Regions from separate parts of the Homo sapiens genome. Here region 1 is linked to region 2. The links come from fine-mapping of genetic effects on gene expression. A gene starts in region 2. The other region holds a variant in brackets. All regions are shown on one strand. Distances are from middle to middle.

What was found. PIP is the estimated chance that this variant, and not a neighbour inherited with it, causes the effect.
Region 1: its variant is fine-mapped to the expression of ZC3H18 in whole blood (TOPMed, PIP above 0.99).

What each region holds. Positions count from the first base shown.
Region 1 is chr16:88,594,629-88,606,825 of GRCh38, reverse strand. ZC3H18 (zinc finger CCCH-type containing 18) reads right to left here. Exons shown (of 18, transcript NM_144604.4): 4 at 8,500-8,648; 5 at 8,114-8,206; 6 at 6,878-7,035. Among named protein-coding and RNA genes, the nearest start is that of ZC3H18, 30 kb to the right of the region's middle. The variant C/T (reference allele first, on the strand shown) is at 6,510.
Region 2 is chr16:88,565,024-88,577,220 of GRCh38, reverse strand. ZC3H18 (zinc finger CCCH-type containing 18) reads right to left here and starts at 6,818. Exons shown (of 18, transcript NM_144604.4): 1 at 6,655-6,818; 2 at 1-111. The coding sequence starts at 97. RefSeq lists enhancers at 6,228-6,277, 7,368-7,417, 7,528-7,637 and silencers at 6,548-6,617, 6,798-7,127.

The sequences.
Region 1 (12,197 bases), 30 kb before region 2:
GCTCTCCCAAAGGACACAGCTTCAGTCCGTTCCCATCAGTCGGACACCGTTCAATCTAATGTGCACACTACTCAAATCACACTGAATTATAACACTCAGGAAACATTTGTAGAGACCTGTGGCAATATGACATCAGGCTACATAAAAACGAAGAGGAAGCCTGGACAGCACGCGAGACACCGTCTCTACAAAAAACACATCAGCAGCCAGGTCTGGTGGTGCATGGCTGTGGCCCCCAACTACTCGGTGGGCTGAGGCTGATTGCGTAAGCCCAATAGGGTAGAAAAGCCTTTCCCAAAATGTGTGAGGCGTGTGTTCTCTGACAAGAGGACTGTGCCGGCAAATTTGTTTTTGGGAAACTGTACTTAAGCAAAATGAAAAGGCCTCTTTCCTGCAGGCTTTCTGGAAGTCGTGGATGAGCGGATAGGAATGAGGCACACAGCATTTCCTCAGCGTGGCTGCCTCGGAACCATCTGCTCCGCAGCATGCGTTCTAGAGAACGTGTCAACACAACACGCCACCAGGAACTGCAACCATGCCAACAACGGACTCCTCAGCACCATCCTGAAAAATTCTGAAACACTCTTGAAATGAATTTGGAAGGTATTTAATTCAATTTAAAAATAAATGCTACTGGGCAGTATCATGGTATGCACAAACTCTTCCCCAACTGTTTTAGGGAACCCAAAATGTTAATGGGCCTTTTGAGAAAAGGGTTCTGTGGTGAAGCAAGGTTGGGCAAAGCTGGCTCGCAGCAACTGGGAGGCTCGCACCTCGTTCTGCAGTCACCACTTAACCAGCCAACACCAACAGTGTCCTGTGCACACACGTGGAATCTGCACTCCAGAGGCCCCGCGTCCCCAGAGGTCTGGGCAGCGTCAGACTCAGCACTGGCACGTGGAGTGGACCTACTCCTCGCTGGAGAGGAGAACCCGAGGTCCTGGCTAAGGGGAACCATTGGACATGCCCATCAGGGGCAGGTGGTTTCTGCCCACAGCCTTGCCCAGGGAGAGGCATGGCAGGTGAAAAGTCGAGCAATTAGAGAACGTGTAAGACAGAAGTTTGGAGCTTCGAGATCACTTTGTTTAACCATTTCATTTCAGTGACAAGGAAACTGGATCTCAAAAAGTACTAGGAAAAAGTTCTAAAATGTCTAACACTACTCACTTTTAATCTAAGGGTTATGCAATATTACACAATGAAATGCAACTTGCATTTGCACAATTCAGGTTGAAATCGTGCTGACCTCAACCCAGGTGGAGGGAGGCTGTGCTCTGCAAAGGGTGGGAGTCAGATGCTCACGTGTCCCTGCTTGCTGCAGAGACCCAAGGTGAAAAGGAGGGTCCCAGGCAGCTCACAAAGGGAGCAGCGACGCAGCCCCCTGCTGCCTCTTGCCCTCACCCCAACCCAGCATGGTCGACCTGGTGCCCACCTGCCTGTTGCCCACGTTCCTGTTGCAACGCTGGCCACTGAAAGTGCAGGCAGGGGAGGAGGTCCCCAAAGGCATGCAGAGGCCACAGGCAATGCCTGGGCACCCATACATCCATCTGCCCTGAGTCTGTGGGACTGTGGGCTTACCCATGTGGAGCAGGCCCTGTCTTACTCTCCAGGTAGCCCAACCCTCCCTCCCTGCTCACTCAGGGGGCTTCCCCACAGGGCACCAGCAAATCCCAGGTAAAAGCCACTTGTGCTCTCTCAGTTAAGCATCTGGGACAAAGGAGGTGCTGGACCAGCATCTGGTAGACCTGTTACCTGAGGAAAGGGAGTGTGCTTTTTGAAAATTACTGTTCTGTTTCCTCTGTATCCCAGCCTGACATCCTACTCCAAAGAACAGCAGCCTGCACCTCCGCCTCTAATACACCGGCACTGCACTACTCTCTGTGCTGGGGGCGTATGGGGAGTTGGCAGGGGCCCAGTCCATGGCCCTGGCCATGGCCTGACAGCCTGACTCTGATTTAATCAGAAACTCTGTTCACGGTGGGGCTACTACTGATGACCGCATTTCTCACAGGTGACGTCCTGTGCGCACTAGAGGCCCTTGTGTCTTTTGGGTCACATGTCCCTATTAGACTTGTAGAATATTCTGGGCACAGCATCCCCAGGAGCCCTATGCAGAGATGACATTTCTTTTTTTTTCTTTGAGATGGAGTCTTGCTCTGTCGCCCAGGCTGGAGTGCAGTGGCGCCATCTCGGCTCACTGTAAGCTCCGCCTCCTGGGTTCACGCCATTCTCCTGCCTCAGCCTCCCGAGTAGCTGGGACTACAGGTGTCCGCCACCACGCCTGGCTAATTTTTTGTATTTTTAGTAGAGATGGGGTTTCACCATGTTAGCCAGAACGGTCTCAATCTCCTGACCCTGTGATCTGCCTGCCTCAGCCTCCCAGAGTGCTGGGATTACAGGCGTGAGCCACTGTGCCCGGCCGTCATTTCATTTCTTAATGTCTTACATATGTGAGAACTTTTTTTTTTTTTTTTGGAGAAAGAGTCTCACTCAGTCACCCAGGCTGGAGTGCAGTGGCACGATCTCACTTGCTGCAACCTCCACCTCTCGGGCTCAAGAGATTCTCCCACCTCAGACTCTTGAGTAGCTGGGACTACAGGTGCGTGCCACCATGCCCAACTAATTTTTGTATATTTTGTAGAGATGGGGTTTTGCCATGTTGTCCAGACTGGTCTTCAACTCCCGAGCTCAACTGATCTGCCAACCTTGACCTCCCAAAACACTAGGATTATAGACATTACTAGCTACTGTATCCAGCCAATATGTGAGGTTTTATAAGTCAGATGGTACCTGAACAAAGTGCTTGAGGTGGTAGAAACGGAATATTTAAAGCTGCGAATCAGAGTGCGTCTGTCTAGCAAAGTATTATTATTATTATTATTTTAAGAAATGGGGCTGGGCACGGTGGCTCACGCCTGTAATCCCAGCACTTTGGGAGGCCAAGGCCGGTGGATCACAAGGTCAGGAGATCGAGACCAACCTGGCTAACATGGTGAAACCCCATCTCTACTAAAAATACAAAAAAAAAAAAAAAAATTAGCCGGGCATGGTGGCAGGCACCTGTAGTCCCAGCTACTTGGTAAGCTGAGGCAGAAGAATGGCGTGAACCCAGGAGGCAGAGCTTGCAGTGAGCCCAGATTGCGCCACTGCACTCCACGCTGGGCGACAGAGCCAGACTCCGTCTCAAAAAAAAAAAAAAAAAGAGACGGAGTCTCGCTCTGTTGCCCAGGCTGGAGTGCAGGGGCATGATCTTGGCTCACTGGCAACCTCCGCCTCCCAGGTTCGAGCAATTCTCCTGCCTCAGCCTCCCAAGTAGCTGGGATTACAGGTGCATGCTGCCACGCCCTGCTAATTTCTTCTGTATTTTAGTAGAGATGGGGTTTCACCGTGTTGCCCAGCCTGGTCTCAAACTCTTGAGCTCAGGCAATCCGTCCGCTTTGGCCTCCCAAAGTGCTGGGATTACAGGCGTGAGCCACCGTGCCCGGCCACAAAGTATTATGTTTACTAAGTGATCCTGCTAGGTCAGTTTTTAATTCCAAAAGAGATATAAAGAAAAAACAGGCCAGGTGCGGTGGCTCACGCCTGTCATCCCAGCACTTTGGGAGGCCGAGGCAGGCAGATCACGAGGTCAAGAGATTGAGGCCATTCCTGGCTAACATGGTGAAACCCTGTCTCTACTAAAAAATACAAAAAATTGGCTGAGCGTGGTGGCGGGCGCCTGTAGTCCCAGCTACTCGGGAGGCTGAGGCAGGAGAATGGCGTGAACCCAGGAGGCGGAGCTTACAGTGAGCCAAGATGGCACCACTACACTCCAGCCTGGGTGACAGAGCGAGACTCCGTCTCAAAAAAAAAAAAAAGAAGGAACAACAATTTTCTTGTCCTTTATGTCCTCAAGACTTCTCGAAAAGTCCTCATATTCCACTGGTTCTACAATGAAGTGCCTAGAGCTCCATCCTGTAGTAAGCAAAGCCTGCCTGCATGAAGGTGCTTCTATGTGACAATTATTTGCAAAACTCAACATCAGGTGGCTAACGTCTATATTCCCAGCAACTTAGGAGGCTCAGGCGCGAGGATTGCTTGAGTCCAGGAGTTGGAGACCAGCCTGAGCAACATAGCAAGACCTCATCTCAAAAAACCAACAGAAAACTCTCGACATTAGGAAATAAAATAACATGGTATCTTCAGAGAATTTGTGTCCCTGGAATTACTTACAATCAATGGTTCTCAAACTTTAATATGCATCAGAATTACCTGGAGGGCTTGTTAAAAACAAACCACTGGCCTGGGCTCTCCCTGGAGTTTCAGACTCAGTCTTCCTGGGGTCGAGCTAAGAATCTGACCTCTCACATGCTGCTGGGGGCAGATGTGGCTGAGGTTAAGGCACCACACCAGGAGGTCACAGCTATCAATCCAGGTTGCACTCTCCTCACCTGTGAGGCAGGGACATGGCCCTGACCTCGGCCTGCTGTGACCCAAAACAGGTCAGGAGCACTGGATGCGAAGCCTGTCATGCAGCAGGATTGCAACACATAAGTGCTGCTGGCTTGGCCTCTTCTGTGCCATTAAGGCCCTGGAGCCTGACCGCCAACTGGGCTGCCAGCCACCCTCCTGCACACCCTACAAGCTGCGACCTGCTTTGCCAGCTGTTCCAGGTGAGGCCCTGCCTGCAGCGGGCACAGGTAGGACCGAGAAGGCTGGGTGACAAGAGGACCCACTCCTGCCAACAGCACGCACCAGGACATCTGCACTTGCAGTGCAGCTCCTTCCTTCCCTCCGGGTCTCAGCAGCCCAGCTGTACTGGCTCCCTCTACTCACTGTTTTCCTCTGTAGCAACCTACCTGGTGGACCCACCCTTCCCTTAGATGCTCTTTGTGACAATCATAGGGGGGTCTCCACCCTCCTGGCAGAACCCTGACAGTTCTTTCCACTGTGTCTATCAGAAACAGCCAGGGCACCTCGCCACTGTGACACATGCACCCTGACCCTGTTCCCAGAGGTCCTGACTCACCAGGTCTCGGGGGAGGCATGGCACAAAAGGCCTCAGGTTAACTGTAACATACACAGAGGCTACTCTATAAAAACAAACAAAATACAAACATACAGAAATACCTGGCTTTCAGACACCAGTGAAAACCTTTCAGCCCTGACTGCCGAGACTTTAACATTTGGGGGTCCTGCAGTGTAGATACCGGCTCCTGGGAGAGAAGCTAGGGAGCCAGGAGCCAGCTTCTGTCACCTGGTGCCAGGATGGGAGACACCTGTTTCTGTAACCAACACTGATAGGTAAAACACACACAGAGGGCACTCCAAAAAACCTCAGAGACCTGCCGAACCACTTCCAAGCAGGCAGTTTTCCGGTCCCTGCTCCAGCCAGGGAAACTGGAAATAGAGTGTCAAGGATCACGCCCAGGTTCTAAAATCCATCCTTCCCCACACATATTTATAGAGACCTCTGTGCACACGAGCTCTGGGGAAGGAAAGACGATATCCACATCTAACAAAAAAACACAAAGGCCTCCAGGGCTTCAGGAGACACCCCTGGTGATCCTGCAGAGTTCTGACTCAAATGCTCCTTTCTGTGATCTGACATTCCACACAAAACTTAATTAGAAAATGTACATGTTAACCAAGTCTTTAAATACCTATCCCTTTAACCTCTAAGCTCTCACCTGCTGGGGCAGGTGTGGGCCACTGGGGCTTCCTCCCCCAACTTCCGCAGGCGGAAAGCCCAGGGTAGCCTGCTCGCGGCAAGAAGGCCTTGAGAAGGGCCTTGCAGGGCCAAGTCGACAGGACCAAATCCTGGAGTGCAAGCCCTGCACGCCTTCCTTTTTTGAGCACCGTTTATTGTCACTCCAGATAGAAATCATAGTGATTATGATTCCCTAATAGCAACCAGAAATGTACAGGGCTGCTAAAGCCTCAGCATGATGGAGTGCCAATTCAGATCTGCCCGAATTATAATCCAGTTCCCTGCCCTGAACCTCACCGTGCCATCCACAGGCAGAGGAAAACAGCACTTTATATGCCATGCAATCCCCCAAGATCTGACTTCCACCCTTCGACCCAGGCACTTCTTCTGTTAAGACAGGATTTTTAAAGACCAGGCATAAAGGGGCTGGGTGCAGTGGTTCACGCCTGTAGTCCCAGCACTCTGGGAGGCAGGCGTGGGTGGATCACTTGAGGTCAGGAGTTCGAGACCATCCTGGCCAACATGGTGAAATCCATCTCTACTAAAAACACAAAACTGAGTTGGGTGTGGTAGCAGACACCTGTAGTTCCAGCTACTCAGGAGGCTGAAGCAGGAGAATCACTTCAACCCAGGGAGGCGGAGGTTGCAGTGAGCCAAGATTGCGCAACTGCACTCCAGCTTGGGCGACAGAGCAAGACTCTGCCTCGGGAAAAAAAACCAAAAAACAAAAACCAGCCATCAATGCCCTGGAGGAGAAGCAGTGAAGGCAGAACAGCCCTGACAGCGAAGAGGCCGCAGCTGTTGTGTTCCTGGCTTGTGG[C/T]AACCTCCACACGTTTCCTGGCTCCTGGGTAATGTGGGCAGGGGTGAGGAGCCAGAAACACAGACTTGTGGGGCTCTAGAGGCCTCAAGGACAGCAGCGAAAACTCTCAGAGCTCAGGAACCACAACGGTGTGAGTGCTGCCAGTCAAGGCCCATGGCACAGAGCCCTAACGCTTCCTTCCTAGAAGCAAAAAACTGAGATGAGCTCTGAGAACCGTGCCTGAATGCTCTCAGGAACGTCACTGAGACTCCAGTGAGTGGGGCTGGGTCTCAGCCGAGCGCACCCTGGGGCCCTGCACATGGCTGCTCTCTCCGGAGCGTGGCCGCATGCAGGAAGGAAACGGAGGGGCAGGCAGGGCCATTCCTTACACTGTGTCTCTGACATCTCTCGGGATCCGAGAATTCCAATCTCGAAAAACTTCATTTTCTTTGTCAAATTCCCGTTCGTCTTCGCCAATGGTCACCGTAAACCTTTTCTCTTCAAAATCAGGCTCCTGTTCTTTTCGAATAGTTGCTTTTTTTAAAACCTACCATTGTAAGAAGAAAGAAGTCAACATGGAACAGAATACCGGGCGTCGCTGTTAGGAAACACAAAGGGAGCCGTCCCACCCGACCGCAGCAGCCCTGCAGGAGCAGGAGCTGCACGCTGCAAGTGCTCAAGGGGTGAGGGGCGGACACAGCACAGTTGTCCTTCTGGGGAGGGCAGTCTGTGCCCGTCTCTGCACAAACAGCTGCCCCCGGCCTCCGTGTGCCCACATGAGGTGTTCATCACTTCCTTCAACTACCCTTGGAACTAGATCCAGGGTTCAGTCACTCAGTGACAAGCAGCAGGTGGAGTGGCTGGAGTCTCAGAGGGAAGGAAGTGACATGCCGAGGGAGTGAGAAGGAACATCTTGTCCGTCATTTCCCAGCAGGGAGGCTGACCAGGAAAATGAGGAAGTGGGGCTGGGTGCCAGCAGAGTGGTCCCCAGAGCTGAAGCTCACACACTGGGGCCAACGTGGGCCTAGAGGGAGGAAGTGTGCAGTGATAGGACCAGAAAGCTCCAAGTTTTCTCCAGGAAGAGCAGACACTGAGTCTCAGGAGTGTGGGGTGCAGATCCTGGGGGTGCGGCTCGGGCAGCCTCGCCAGGCTTTCTGTGAGTGGCTGGAGACTGCACCCTGTGCTCCTGGGCAGTGCCAGCTGGGGTGTGGCCCAGTGCTGATCCAGCCCCATGAAGACAGTGGGTATGCCCTGGACTGAACTCCCTGGCCTACTGGGCTGCTGCCTGAGACAGTTAGATATAACTCTCCATCCTTCCGGGCCTGGTGGCGCATGCCTGTAATCCCAGCTACTTGGGAGGCCGAGCAGGAGAATCACATGAACCTGGGAGGCGGAGGCTGCAGTGAGTCGAGTTTGGGCCATTGCACTCCAGCCTGGGCAACAAGAGTGAAACTCTGTCTCCAAAAAAATAAATAAATAAAAAATAAAGAAAGACACCACAGAAACAGACGCCTAACTTCAGAGATTTCTGGGGCTCTCTCTGGACCGAGGAAATCCCAGTTTTGTCAAGAACCACTCCTGTAATAGCATCTTTCTTGTCGGGATTTCTGCTGAATTGTGTTTACCTCCTTTGCATGCCGGAGTCCTCGTTCCCAGGCACTCTCTGTTGGGGGCTCTGGAGGGGGTGGAGGCAAAATTTCATCAACTACCGGCCCACCCTATTGAAAAACGAGAAGGGAGAAGGTGAGAAAGTAAAACTTTCAAGTGTACAGAGAAACCAGACAGTAAAAACATCAACTACAACACAAGCCGGCCGTGTGTGGCCGCTCTCCTTCCACCAAGCCTCACTCCGTCCTCGGAAAGCCGAGGCCTGCTTCCACTCGGGACGACAGAAGCAGCCGAAAGGGGGCACTGAGCCTGTGCTAAGGCACAGTGACTTGTCTTAAGCTTGAGATTCAGACACAGCTCAGTTGGCTGATGTGCTAACAATGAAAGAAGAGGCATCACGCACCCAAGGGTTGGCGGGCATCAGCGGGTGAGGTCCGAGAGGCGGGGCACCATTAGGCGGGAAGGGGTCGGCTTTGGTGATTAGGGAGTAGTTCCCCTTGTCGTTCACTCCAGGGTGTATAAACCTACAATTCATTCCCCAGGTACAGTTCCCTATGGAAACAAAAGTGAGATCAGAAAGGGTCCACAAGAGCCTAATTGCACAAGGGCAGCTGCTGGGGTGGGGGGTGGGAGGGGGCAGAGGCCATGTTTACCCAGGCCTGATGGCGAGCCACACAGTAGTGGGAACTGAACGGGGAGGTGGGCGGGATGAGCCTGGAGAGGCTGAGCCAGACAGCTGCACCTGCCCAGGCACGGCAGTTCCCCAGAGGCTGCCAGGCACCTCGGTCAGAGTGACCACAAAGTCACTTTGTGGAGAGTTCACGCGTATCAACTGTCTGAGTATTAATTTTCCCCTTAAACCAGAAAAGCCCCAGAGCTTTGCTTCCAGCCCTGGCCCAGGCTCATCTAGGTACAACTGGATGTTAATTGTATTTGTGCCGAAACAGACATCAATGAGAAGCATTAACAATGATCAGAAGCCTGCAGGTGTGCTCAGGGTCCCCTTGGCCACCTCTGTACGTCTGCATTTCTCTCACAGAGAAAACTCTCACAGGGCATTTCAAGATATTTCTGGAACTGAAACGGGCTTTTACACTTTGCTCATAAATAACAATCACAAACCTTCATCTTCAACAGAATATCCGGGTTAGTAAAGGAGACCTCGACTTTCAAGTGTAGAATATAAGACATCTAAGTGTCTAACTCAATTACTGAGTGAATCACTTTTTTAAAATGTACTTTTTTGGGAATAGATAATGTGTACACATTGTTTAAAACCAAATATGGCATATAGTATCTAAGCGGTTTAAAAATTTTTTTCAATGGGTTAACATGCAGTTAGATTTTAAATCATTTAAAATTTTAACCTTAAACATCAGGAACACTTAAGCCTGCATTAAAACCAACTCAATACAACATAATAACAATATCGATCCAAATTAAACACGAAAGAAAACTTAAAACTGCTTCTCTGGAAATGCAAAAATGACAAGTAATTTTTAAAATTTCTAAAAGCATTTCAGAGATCACACATAAGTCAAACGAAGTTGGGAGGCCAGGCGTGGTGGCTCACGACGTCAAGAGATCAAGACCATCCTGGCTAACATGGTGAAACCCCGTCTCTACTAAAAAATACAAAAAATTAGCCGGACGTGGTGGCAGGTGCCTGTAGTCCCAGCTACTTGGGAGGCTGAAGCAGGAGAATGGCGTGAACCCAGGAGGTGGAGCTTGCAGTGAGCCGAGATCGTGCCACTGCACTCCAGCCTGGGCAACAGAGCGAGTCTCTCTCAAAAACAACAACAAAAAACAAAAGAGGTTGGGAAATGTTATTCTATAGGGGGTTCAAAAATCCAGAGCCTCAGAGAGATTTAAAGAAAAACTGACTATGCAGTCATCCATCTGAGACTCAACACACTACAGAGCTCTTCATGGTTTGCCTCTGAAAATACTCATGCAGTATTCAAAATCACGTGTGTAACTAAACAAGTAACAAAAGCTCATTGTAAAAAATGTCCAAGTACAGAAAAGTGCTGACAATAGAAACCACAGCTTTTCTGTACTCCTTTTCCTTTTTTTTTCAGATGGAGTCTCACTCTGACTGAGTGAGACAGTCCCAGGCTGGAGTGCAATGATGCAATCTCGGCTCACTGCAACCTCCACCTCCTGGGTGTCAGTGATTCTCCTGCCTCAGCCTCCTGAGTAGCTGGGATTACAGGCGGGTACCACCATGCCAGGCTAATTTTTGTATTTTTAGTAGAGACGGGACTTCACCAACTTGGTCAGGCTGGTCTCGAACTCCTGACCTTGTGATCTGCCAGCCTCGGCCTCCCAAAGTGCTGGGATTACAGGCGTGAACCACCACACTCGGCCTCTGTACTTCTTTTTCATCTAAAATATGTATCTGGGTGGTGGCTAAATGTTATCGTTCTTTTCTGTATTTATGAAAATTTTTAGGACATCACCTACGAACCTACTATCAAAAAAGATCCTTTCTCACTGATATTGGCATGGGGAGAAAAGAGGAACAAGGCAGAAGAGAACAAACCAGTGAGCGCCAAAGAGCAAGCTGAGAAGGCGAGCGTGGGGCTGCCACTAGAGACCAGACACTAGTGGGTGACAGTGTTCAGCTCTCGGGAGCCACCTGCCCGGGGGTGCTGAGCGCTGTCCTGCCCCTGGCCAGAGTAAAGGGGAAGATGGCTCTGGAAAGCAGCACAGTTGGTCTGCACGTCTAGCTGGGACACACTTCCAGCAGACGTCAGGCAGAAAGAACACCATTGTCCCATCTATCTTTTTAAAATGTGAACTTTTATCTGTGTAGGAACACACCCAACTGTCGGGAATGTGGGAAGGGGCTTTAGATTTTATTTTCTTGCCTTCTGCCAGCCCATATTACTTTCTTTCCTTTTTTTAATTTTTTTTTTTTTGAGATGGAGTCTCGCTCTGTTGCCCAGGCTGGAGTGCAGTGGAGCGACCTAGGCTCATTGCAACCTCTGCCTCACAGTTCAAGCAACTCTCCTGCCTCAGCCTCCCGAGTAGCTGGGATTACAGGTGTGCACCACCAAGCCCGGCTAATTTTTGTATTTTTAGTAGTGACAGGGTTTCGCCATGTTAGCCAGGCTGGTCTCAAACTCCTGAAGTCAGGTGATCCGCCCACCTCGGCCTCCCAAAGAGCTGGGATTACAGGTGTCAGCTACCGTCCCCAGCCTTACTTTCATAATTTAAAAAGCAATTTGTTAAAAAAAAAAAAAAAAAAAAGAAAGAAAGAAATTATCCAGAAAATAGAAGCAACAATAAAGATCTTCTGGTTTACAAATGGGACTTCAAACCCAAAATTTATGTGGATTGTGATTCTAACAGTATAAAGATAGTTCTGCGGATACTGTGTACACAGACATGGCCTCAGGCCAGAAGAGGACAAGGAGGGACAGAGGCCGCTGGAGCGGGGCGGAGGCGGCCCCTCCACTGCTGAAATGTCTAAGTACTATTTCTGGCTTCAAGACAGGATGATGGTCTTTTTCTTAACTGGAATGTCGGCACAGCAGCAACTGGTTTTTCTTTTGTTTTGTTTTTGTTTTTTTGAGATGGAGTTTTGTTCTTGTTGCCCAGGCTGGAGTGCAATGGCACAATCTCAGCTCACTGCAACCTCCGCCTCCCAGGTTCAAGTGATTCTCCTGCCTCAGCCTCCCGAGTAGCTGGAATTACAGGCATGCACCACCACGCCTGGCTAATTTTGTATTTTTAGTAGAAACGAGGTTTCTCCATGTTGGTCAGGCTAGTCTTGAGCTTGCGACCTCAGGTGATCCGCCCGCCTCGGCCTCCCAAAGTGCTGGGATTACAGGCATGAACCACCACGCCCAGCCAACTGTTTTATTCTCTTATTAATCTTTACGCTTGTGTAAACACTGTATTATTTTATATATATGAAATATTTCATAATCAAATGAAATACTTGTAAATAAAAAATACCCACCCACTCTAAAAGGTACACTGTGAAGTTGACCACCTATCCCATGCCTCCAGGGCCATTCCCAGAGGCAGTTATCAATATACTGGGGCTCCATCCATCAATCATTGCCCCCTTTTACCTGAGCATATATATTA
Region 2 (12,197 bases):
CGCTGTCCCTCAGAATGTCATCGTCCGAGAGTCCCTGTGGCTGCTCTTCATCCTCTGGAGAGTGAGGATCCCGTTCAGGGCTCTCGGCCACATCCATCGGTACCCACGGTTCTGCAAAAGAGAGAATACAGATTGACAGCCTTTAGCAAAATGGAAAACAAACCTTGTCCCTACTTTCCTGGCCTGAAGCAGCAGGACTTCCATCCTGCTTGGTCCCACACGGCCCTGCCCCAAATCCCACACTCCACTCTGCAGAGAAAGACAGGCCATAACTCCACTCCACAAGGCTAGACTGCTCAGCTAAGCTGGGTGTTAAGTGCCTCCCGTTTTTGGCAATCTGGCAAAATGAGATGTGGCAGAAGGAGACGCAGCCTGGCCTAGCCCTTCCCCGCTCAAGGGCAGCCCACACGAGTTAACAGAAAGTGAGTAACGATACGGATCGCAAAGGACAGCTGTGTGAATTCTTAGAGGAGTATTTACTTTTGAAATTAAAGATAAACTGTATCATGGAACGAGGAAGCAAAACTGCAGGCCCAGATCTCACCATTTTTCTGGAGTCATCCTGAAGCAGGAACCTGGGCCAGCCTTCGGCAGTGTCCAAGTCTGGAGCCTTTTCTGTTACTGAACACACTTCTCGAAGGCCAGCCTCTGAGGGCCTCCGAGAATCCCTTGGCTGCCCTTTAGCAATGCAGGCTCAGAGCCCTGCCTGCGTGTTCACTGGCCCCTCCAGCAGGTGTCGAGAGGGCTGTGTTCACCCGCTCAGCAACTCACACTCCTAAGTTGAGAACCCCTCTTCCCATACAGGTAGCTGCTGTCGAAAAGAACTCTGGCAGGAAACTTGACACACTTAAGTACCGCGCGTATGTAAAAGACGAGGCTGGCCAGGTACGGTGGCTCGCATCTACAATCTCAGCACTTTGGGAGGTTGCAACGGGAGGATCATTTGAGCCCAGCAGTTCGAGACCAGCCTGGGCAACATGGTGAGACCCTGTCTCTGTAAAAAAAAAATACTAAAATTCAGGCCAGGCGCGGTGGCTCACACCTGTAATCCCAGCACTTTGGGAGGCCCGAGGCAGGTGGATCATGAGGTCAGGAGATCGAGACCATCCTGGCTAACACGGTGAAACCCCGTCTCTATGAAAAATACAAAAACTTAGCTGCACGTGGTGGCAGGCGCCTGTAGTCCCAGCTATTCAGGAGGCTGAGGCAGGAGAAAGGCGTGAACCCAGGAGGTAGAGCTTGCAGTGAGCTGAGATCGCGCCACCGCACTCCAGCCTGGGCGACAGAGTGAGACTCCGTCTCAAAACAAAAACAAAAACAAACAAACAAACAAAAACTAAGTCACAGAGTGTGGTGGTGCGTGCCTATATTCCCAGCTACTTGGGAGTCTGACGCAGGAGGATCGCTTAAGCCCAGGAGGTGGAGGCTGCAGTAAGCCAAGACTGCATCAATGTGCTTCAGCCTGGGCAACAGAGTGAGACCAATCTCCAAAAAAAACTCAAAAAACAAAAAAAGACGGGGTCACTTCAGACTTCATTCCTATTTTTACTAATCCAGATTAAATTATAAAGTTAATATTTTCGAGTTTCCCTCCTCAAAAACTCATAGAAAGTACACTGCTACCCATGCTTTAAAAGTGGACGGTGTTAAGACGGGTAGGAAGGTGTAGAACGGCAACACCTGCCTGGCAAACACTTGCCACACCACCACTACCAGGGCAGCTAGTCACCACCAAGTGAGTGTGGAGCAGCAGGGACAGTGCCAGGTCAGCGGTCACTTGACTGTTCAGTCTGTGAGGCTGTTAAAATAACGTATGTCACGGTCACACTGCTCGGCATCTCGGCAAGGTCTGGAAACAGATTATTCATCTCAAGATAACTACGGACGCAGCAAGTCATACACATACACATTTATATGTCTTGTATCTCAAATAACCATACACACTAAAGATAAAAATATTCATCTTTTAAATTTATACTTTTAATACAACCTGTTTAAAGATGCACAGTATCAAGAATTGGTATCAACCTACAGTTAAACATTTTTTTTTTTTGCTGTTAATGGAAATCATTAAGATTAAGTACACATTAGAGGCCGGGCACGGTGGCTCACGCCTGTAATCCCAGCACTTTGGGAGGCCGAGGCGGGTGGATCACGAGGTCAGGAGATCGAGACCATCCTGGCTAACACGGTGAAACCCCGTCTCTACTAAATATACAAAAAATTAGTCGGGTGTGGTGGCGGGTGCCTGTGTTCCCAGCTACTCGGGAGGCTGAGGCAGGAGAATGGCGTGAACCCAGGGGGCGGGGCTTGGAGTGAGCCGAGATCGCGCCATTGCACTCCAGCCTGGGCGACAGAGCGAGACTCCGTCTCAAAAAAAAAAAAAAAAGATACATTAGAACAAATTGGTCAGGTGCGGTGGTTCATGCCTGTAATCCCAGCACTTTGGGAGGCTGAGGTGGGCGGATCACTTGAGTCCAGGAGTTCTAGACCAGCTTGGGCAACATAGCAAAACCCCATCTCTACCAAAAAAAAAAAAAAAAAAAAAAAAAATTAGCTGGGTGTGGTAGGGCACCTGTCGTCCCAGCTACTTGGGAGGCTGAGATAGGAGGATCACCTGATCCTAGGAGGTTGAGGCTGCAGTTCAGCCTGGGTGACAGAGTGAGACCCTGACTCAAACAAAAAACAAAAAAGCCAAAAAAACCCAAATCTGGCCAGGCGTGGTGGCTCGCGTCTGTAATCCTAGCACTTTGGGAGGCCAAGGCAGGTGGATCATCCGAAGTCAGGAGTTCAAGACCAGCCTGGCCAACATGGTGAAACCCGGTCTCTACTAAAATACAAAAATTAGCTGGGCATGATAGCAGGTGCCTGTTATCCAAGCTACTTGGGAGGCTGAGACGAGAGAATCGCTTGAACCTGGGAGACAGTGGTTGCAGTGAGCCGAGATCACACCACTGCACTCCAGCCTAGGTGGTGGCTAAGCGAGACTCCGTCTCAAAAGAAAATTCAAATCATTTAAAATTCATCACTTTATAAAAACTAAATGGGCCAAGGGTGGTGGCTCACGCCTGTAATCCCAGCACTTTGGAAGACTGACGCGGGTGGATCACCTGAGGTCAGGAGTTCAGGACAAGCCCGGTCAAAATGGTGAAACCTTGTCTCTACTAAATATACAAAACATTAGCTGGGCATGGTGGTGGGCATCTGTAATCCCAGCTGCTCGGGAGGCTGAGGCAGGAGAATTGCTTGAACTCGGGGGGGCGGAGGTTGCAGTGAGCCAAGATTGTGTCATTGCTCTCCAGCATGGGCAAAAAGAGCAAAACTCCGTCTCAAAAAAAAAAACCTAAATGGTTAGCAATAACATAGATTTACAAACCAACCAATCCATTCCAAGTCACTTAAAAGCAGACAGTTCTGAAAATGATTCACTTTTTGGTTTTCTAAGTACACTATTCGGTTACTATCCAGAGACAGGACTACTGGGAGGAATTATTAAAAAGTCAGTCCTAAGCCAGGAGTGGTGGCATGTACCTGGAATCCCGGCTACTTGTGTGGTTGAGGTGGGAGAATCACTCGAGCCCAAGAGTTCGAGTCCAGCCTAGATAACATGGTAAGACCCTCGTCTTTTTATTAAAGGTAGTCCTAAACTGGTATACACTGCTGAAAATGGGAAAGTCAAGGAGCTGATCCCCAAACAGTATCACAGGGGCGCTTGATGCACAGAGCATTTCTGCAGCCCAAGGCAACAAAAGCAAGGATGAAAAGCACCAAGGCTGCTAAGGCCTCTACGCACTGACTGTTCAAGACTGGGAGTCTGCGTGGGGTTGTGGCAGTAAGTCACCGGTGGCAAACTGGCAATTCTCTCTCTTGCCTAGCTATCGACATTAGTAACACCCTATACTATCTTCGTACACTTTTTATTACAATGTATAAACATCTTCCTCATAGAAGGGCAGGTAGTTCACATCTCCCCAGCTGCCTAAGCGGAGCGCCTGGTGCCCAGTAGGATGCCCCAAGCTGAACCCAGACCTGAAATATGACAAATTCTGATTCTCATGTTTTATAGTTTAATGTCAACCTTGGAAACAAAGTGATCTCTTAAATAAACCAACTTTTATGCAAAACTAAATGTCTCCTCAAACTAGTTTTAAAAATCACACAATTGGCTGGGTGTGGTGGCTCATGCCTGTAATCCCAGCACTTTGGGAGGCTGAAGCGGGAGGATCACGAGGTTGGGAGTTCGAGATCACCTTGGCCAACACAGTGAAACCCCTGTCTCTACTAAAAATACAAAAATTAGCTGGGCATGGTGGCACGTGCCTGTAGTCCCAGCTACTCAGGAGGCTGAGGCAGGAGAATCACTTGAACCCAGGAGGAGGAGGTTGCAGTGAGCCGAGATCATGCCACTGCACTCCAGCCTGGGTAGCAGAGTGAGACTCCGTTTCAAAAAATAGTAATAAGGTGCTACGAAGGGAAACGTGGCCTCTTAAGTGTAGACAATGAAATGAGAAGTGTAGACAGGGGTGTCAGTAGAAGAGTCTCAACTGATACCCACGTTTGCAATTTGTGCTCAGTTTGGTCTTCTTACACTATCTATAACTGAAGATTTTCAGCACAATTTAGAACTAAATCCTTAGTCCTCTGATCCACCAGATGGGTGAACTTGCCTAAGGAATGAAATAACAAGTGCCCATCGTCCCGTCTCCGTTGCTTTCTGCATTTGGCAGATGATACTTGATAGATATTTGTTGAATACATGACAAAAAACTCGTTAATTGAGGAACTACCTGTTGCCTACCAGAAAGGAATTTAAAATAAGTGCCCAGGAGGAGGAGGTTGCGGTGAGCCGAGATCCTGCCACTGCACTCCAGCCTGGGCAACAGAGTGAGACTCCGTCTCAAAAAATAATAGTAATAATAAAGAGCAGGTGCTACCTCCCTTCCGAGCAGCCCCTCTGGGAGGATGCACAGACTCCAACGGCACTGCTGAAATGCAGAGCGTTTGGGGACCTTCTCATTGCGAATGACCTTCCAAGCCTAAAGAAGTCTTCTGGTATTCTTAGTGGTGGCAAATCTTCCTCCTCTCAAGCTAGTCACTTTGATAAAGTGCTGCAAGTCAGAGTCTCACCTGATAAGGTGAGCTACCAACCACGTAAGTAAACTTTTGGTCAAACCTGGAGGGTGACTATTGAATAAGACTGATTTTCCCATATGACTACATTTTTACTACCACAACAGGAGTTCTAAAGAGATTCTGGCAAAGAAGCACCGATGAAATACAAGCACATTTTGGGACAATTACTTTCAACAGAGCAGTACCTATTTGAATGCCTAAGTTCTGGTACATCTGGTTAAAATTCTGACTCATAACCTCATGGACTTAAAATATCTAAATGAACGTTATCAAGGTTGGTGACAGACCCCACGTGCAAAGTGACCAAGCGTGACCACTAAACTCCTTGATAAAGAGGTACTCACCTTGAGATGCTCTGTAGCTGTGACAAAATACAAATCTCTGTAAACACGATGTAGGCCATAGGTTAACTTACCTGTTTGCTTTCTGGAGTGACTCCACAAAGCTTTCTTACAATATTTCAGCATGTCCCACCTACAACGGGAGAGGAGTTTCCGGCTTTGGGACACATTTGACTGGTTCCAGGGCTGGCTGGGCTCCATACTGCCCTTAGATAGTAAAATTATCAGGAAAAGACTCTCCTCCCAAAGCTGGGAAGCGGGATTCAGCCGAGGTCAAACCTCACCCGGATAATCCCAACTACTGAACGGGAAAGGACTACTCTACAGACAACAGGCTGGAGGTGAGTCTAACAGGAGACATGATGAGCACCTTGCTACACCCCAAACGGTACTTCAGATGCCAAACACTCTCTTCTTCCATTTTCCCAAATGGGTCTGAAGAATGACCTACTCTTGCAAATGAGTTAGCGTTGTTCGAACAAAGCTCATTTAAAACGGCCACTCTACCCGGCAAACTCAGTTGTCATAAAGTATTCAGGAAAAATGTTTGGCAGGAGTAAGGCTGTTAAGTTTCAGTTCTTCCAGCATTATAGCTGCAGTTGGTCTATATAAAGGACCCAGCACCTCTGATCTCCTAATCCAAGGGGCAAGGAAGTTACATACTCCTAAGAGACCGGCGCGCGTCTTGGGGCAATCACTGCGCCCAACCTGTGCACACTTTGAAGCTGCGGAGCAAGTTCCAGGAGGTTCATAAAGAGCTCAAAGTTCTCCGAAGAGCCCAGCAGCAGCCCGGGATGACCTACTCTGGAGGTGAATCTGGGCGCCTCTCACCGCCCCTTAGCCGGCGGCACACATGTGCCACGCGAGTGGCCCGGAAGAGAAATGACAGCTTCAGGAAAATAAACTCTGCCGCGGGGCGCGGAGGCAGCGCGCGAGGAGCTCGGGCGCCCAGGGCGCCCCAGGACCGCGGGGCCGGCTTACGGACGGAACTCGGGGTGGTGCCTGTCTCAAGGTCCCCTTCCCTGGGCCCGAGGGCCACGCTTCGGCCGGTGGGTCCGCACGGCCGGAGGCGCGCCGGGCTCCCGGGCCTCCCTCCCGCGGCCGCCGCCGCCGCCTCGGCGGCCTCCTCCTCCCGCCGCCGCCGGCCCGGCCTCCCGCCGCCCTCCCGGCCCCAGCTAACCTCAGCGCTAGGGCGGAGAGGAGGCCACGGCTCCCCTGGAGTCGGAGCGGCGTGGAGAAGACGTCCCTTGGCCCTTCCGCTCTTCACAGGTTCTGGCTCCAGGCTCGACACGGGCGGAACAAACGGGCTCCACTACCCGCGGGGGCCGGCCATTGTGCGACGTCATCAGGCCGCGACGGTAGTCCTACGGCCGGCGGGCTTCCCTCCCTCGCCCCGCCCCCTCCAGCTTCCTTCCGGCCTCCGCGCGGTTCCGCCCCCGCAGCGCGCGCCCGGACCCGCGCGAGCCAGCCGAACCCCCGCTACAGCGCAGGCGCCACGGGGAGTTCGCTTCTCAGGCGGCGGGCGTGCGGATCCGCGCCTGCGCACAGAGCTCCCCGCGGCCGCCGGGTCACGTGACGGGGCTCCGGCTGGGCCGGCGGGTTCTTCATCCCCGGGGATGATCGAGTTCATCAAAGTGGAAAACTTAAGGCGGTCTTCGTCGGGCTGATACTTCCTGCTTTATTGAATGTTGATATTAAATGCTTACCTCCGGAATTATTTTTTGAGGTATCGACTTTAGATTAAAAGCCTAACAATTCTTACCTTTCCCGTGGGCTGCCTGGCTCCCCGCGCGGTTCAACGCGAGCAGCGCCAGTGAGGGGACCTGTCGCGTGTCCTGCTCAGCGCGGTGTCCCACGGGCGCGTCCACAGCCCGGGGCGTCCAGGGGCTGCAGCGGTGCGAGCTGCTCTAGAGACGGAGGGCCCGGCCGGAGACCAGGGGCCGGCGGTTTCATCCTGCGCTGACCCTTGCCAACGACGTGGCTGGTCCTGGGGATCACAGGGCTTCGCTCATCCCATCTTCCTCCATATCCCCAAGGTGGAAACAAGGGGGCGAGATGTCCACAAACTGAGGAACAGACAAAATGCTGGCTGTCCATGCAGTGGAGTGTGAGTCAGTCATCAAGAAGAGTGAAGTTCAGACCCATGCCACAACATGGGTGAACCTTGGAAACATACTAAGTAAAGCAAGCCAATCGCAAAAGGACAAAACCTGTGCGACTCCATGCTATGGACCGAGTTCTGTCCCCCTAACATTTGTATGTGAAGCCTTAATCCCCAATGTGACTGTGTTTGCAGAAAGGGCCTTTAGAGAAGTAATTAAGGTTAAATGAGATTATAAGGGTGGGGTCCTGATCTGATAGGATTAGTGTCCTTGGAAGAGGTACCACAGGCCTGGCACTGTGGCTCACACCTGTAATCCTAGCACTTTGGGAGTCCAAGGTGGGAGGACCACCTCCTCCAGGAGTTTGAGACCAGCCTGGGCAACAAAGCAAGACCCCTGTCTCTACAAAAAAATTAACAGGGCACCGTGGTGCGTGCCTGTAGTCCCAGCAACTTGTTATGGTTACGTAAGAGGAATGTGAATTCAACCCTGGTGATTTTGGGTCGTGTCAGGAGCAGCCCTGCGACACCAGTTGGCACCTTCTGCAGACTCTATGTGTCGATAAGACAAGGTCCCACCCAGCAAGTGCCCTTTTCTCAGCTGATGAACATAAGCCTGCATGGACGTTACTGTCCATGGAAAGGAGCGGCCGGCACCGGCTGTGACAGACACGTGCCTGTCTGCGATCTGAGTTTCATGAACAGTAAACTCTGTTGGTCACAGCCTCTTTGGAAAACAATGTTAGTTAAAAGAAGTGCCCTGTGACCAGCAGTGCCACCCTCGACAGGGTTCTCCAAGTGGGACCCGGGCAAGCAGCCTCAGTATCACTAGGGGTTGTTAGCAATGTGCCTTCCTGGGCTCTGCCCCAGAGTGGCCGCACCAGTGACTGGGAGTGAGGTCCCAGGGCCCTGTGGTCCATGAAGAGCTCTCAGGGGATTCTGATGCCCAGTGGTACAGGTGGGCCACCGGACTGGGGTGTCATCTGCCCGTGGGCATGAGACATGAACAAGGACATAGCAGGTCTGTTAGTAGTCATAACTAAAAGAACAAAGGAGCCGGGCACGGTGGCTCATGCCTGTAATCCCAGCACTTTGGGAGGTCGAGGCGGGCAGATCGCGAGGTCAGGAGATCGAGACCATGCTGGCTAACACAGTGAAACCCCGTCTCTACTAAAAATACAAAAAATTAGCCGGGCGTGGTGGCGGGCGCCTGTAGTCCCAGCTACTCGGGAGGCTGAGGCAGGAGAATGGCATGAACCCGGGAGGCGGAGTTTGCAGTGAGCCCAGATCATGCCACTGCACTCCAGCCTGGGCAACAGAGCGAGACTCCGTCTCAAGAAAAAAAAAGAACAAAGGAAAAAACCAGAAAACCACCCAGATGTTGATGAGCAGATGATTGTACTGTTGTAATAGTAATCTGGTACAACATTTGCAACATCGCGGTTGTTAAAAATGCTAACGCATGAACCTCCAGTGTGTATACACAGATATAAATAAACGGGTGAAGACCATCTGTGAGGTTGCATGACAAAGGCAAGTGCAGAAGCAGACAGGGTGGGCACATTTCTTTTCTTTCTTTCTTTCTTTTTTTTTTTTTTTGAGACAGAGTCTCACTCTGTCGCCCAGGCTGGAGTGCAGTAGCGCCATCTCGGCTCCCTGCCACCTCCGCCCCCTGGGTTCAAGCGATTCTCCTGCCTCAGCCTCCCGAGTAGCTGGGACTACAGGCGCCCGCCACCACGCCCGGCTAATTTTTTTGTATTTTTAGTGGAGACGGGGTTTCACCGTGTTAGCCAGGACGGTCTCGATCTTCTGACCTCGTGATCCTCCCGCCTCGGCCTCCCAAAGTGTTGGGATTACAGGCGTGAGCCACTGCGCCCGGTCCACGTTTCTATCAAATTGAAATCATGAGCGGTTTTGCTGAGGGTGTGGGGCACCCAGAGCCTGCGGCCTGTGCTCGAGTGAAAATGGTGGCCCCGCTCCAGAAGCCTGCGACGGCGCTCACGGAACCGCAGCCTTCGTGCGGCGGCACCTGGGCCGTGCTACTCCTCTGTGACTTCCCGGAAGAGATGAGCTGCTACGTCCAGCAAAAGGCACATCCAAGATCGTTCACCCCAGCATGACTCGTTACACTCCGGACTAGAAGGAACCCCAAGGTGCTTCAGTGACAGAACGATGAACCAGCTGGGGTGTAACCCCCATGCAATGGAATATCGTACAGGAACGAAAAGGACACGCTACCCCTACAAGCAACATGGATCTCAGAGGCAGGATGTTGCGCAGAAGAAACCAGACACAAATGCTTCGGCTCGTGTTGCTGCGACTCATTACAGGCAGCCGAATCTGCGGTGATGGGGGCCCCAGGAGCAGTGACCAGGAGGCAGTGCCACGGAGCCTGCGGTGGGGGCTGATAGTCAGTAGCGTGACCTGGTTGGGATGTTCTGTTTTTAAGCTGGAGTCCATCATGTTTGTTTATTTGTTCATTTCGTAGAGGTGGGGGTCTTGTAGAGGTGGGGGTCTCACTCTGTTGCCCAGGCTGGTCTCAAACTCTGGGCCTCAAGCGATCCTCCCACCTTGGCCTTCCAAAGTGCTGGGATTACAGGTGTGAGCCACTGCATAAGGCCGTTATTGTTATTAGTGCTTAAAAATATTTAGTAAACATTTTATTTAGCCTAAAAACCATTCAGAGAGCAGAGGCTGGATGGAACACGGCGTGCCAGGCGGTGAGAGCACAGACCCTCCTCTTCCAGAGCAGGAAGTGGGTAAATGACTTTTAAGCCTCATTTCTGGGGTGGCAAAACTCTTCTGTATGAAGAAGTACAAATATGTAATGTCCCATAATGGCAGCTATGGGACGTTACGTATTTGCCAAAACCCACATAACGCACAACGCCAAGAGTGAACTGTAATGTAAACTGTGGACTTAAGTCAATGATCGTGTCCCGATACGGGCTGGTTGGTTGTGATGCAGGGCAGGTGAGGCCCAAAGTGGAGCTTAGCCTGCCAGCGTTCTTGGCTTTGCCCAAGAAAGAATTCAAGGACAAGCCGGAGGTAGAAGAGAACAACTTGATTGAAGAGGCAGTGTGGCAGGTCCGTGACGGCTCCTGCAGAGCTGGGCTGCCCAGAAGGCAGAGAGCAGCAGCTCAACGCACTTCTGCAGACCCATTATACCCACTTTTAATTACATGCAGATTAAGGGGCAGTTTATGCAGAAATTTCTGGGGAAGGAGTAGTCACTTCTGGGTCACTGAGTCATTGCCATGGAAAGGGGTGGGAGTGTTGCCATGGCGATGGTAAACTGACACAGAACACTGGTGGGTGTGTCTTTTTTTTCTTTTCCTGAGACGGAGTCTCCCTCTGTCACCCACATTAGAGTGCAGTGGCCTGATCTCGGCTCACCACAACCTCTGTCTCCTGGGCTCAAGCAATTCTTCTGCTTCAATCTCCTGAGTAGCTGGGGCTGCAGGCATGGGACATCATGCCTGGCTAATTTTTGTATTTTTAGTAGAGACAGGGTTTCACCATGTTGGCCAGGCTGGTCTCAAACTCCTGACCTCTGGTGATCTGCCTGCCTGGGCTCCCAAAGTGCTGGGATTACAGGCATGAGCCACTGCGCCCAGTCTGGTGTGTCTTATAAAAAGCTGCTTCTGCCCTGCCCTGTTTTAGCCAGTCCTGTTTGGTCCCAGCTCCAAGCCCTGCCTCTGGAGTCAAGTCCTGCCTCCTATCTCAATTGTAATAAATGTTCTGCACCAGTGCAGGGTGTTAATAAGAGGGGAGATGGGCAGGGGTGCTGGGGGTACAGGGGAACTCTGCTCATTTTTCTTTTTTTTTTTTGAGATGGAGTCTCACTCTGTTGCCCACCCTGGAGTGCAGTAGCGCAATCTCGGCTCACTGCAAGCTCCACCTCCCAGGTTCACGCCATTCTCCTCAGCCTCCCGAGTAGCTAGGACTACAGGCGCCCATCACCACGCCTGGCTAATTTTTGTGTATTTTTTAGTGGAGACGGGGTTTCACCATGTTAGCCAGGATGGTCTCGATCTCCTGACCTCGTGATCCACCCGCCTCAGCCTCCCAAAGTGCTGGGATTACAGGCGTGAGCCACTGTGCCTGGCCTCTCATTTTTCTTTAAACCTAAAACTGGTCTAAAAAATTAATTTCATATTTTTTTTTTCACAAGAATGTGGAGCAACTAGAATCACGTACTCTGCTGCTGGGAGTGTGACTAGTGCCCTTATTAAGAAAAAGTCAAGAAACATTGGTATGAATATTACTGGAGATCGGGAAAATGCCGGAAGAGACCATGAAAAGAGTTAAAACTTGTTGCCAATTGGGGGTGGAAACTGGGAGGGAAGAGGCAGGAAGCTAGTTTTAAAAATCAACTTTAGGCCAGGTGTGGTGGCTCATGCCTGTAATCCCAGCACTTTGGGAGGCCGAGGCAGGTAGATAACCTGAGGTCAGGTGTTCGAGACCAGCCTAGTCAACATGGTGAAACCTTGTCTCTACTAAAAATACAAAAATTAGCCGGGTGTGGTGGCGGGCACCTGCAATCGTAGCTACTCGGGAGGCTGAGGCAGGGGAATCACTTGAACCCAAAAGGTAGAGGTTGCAGTGATCCAAGATTGCGC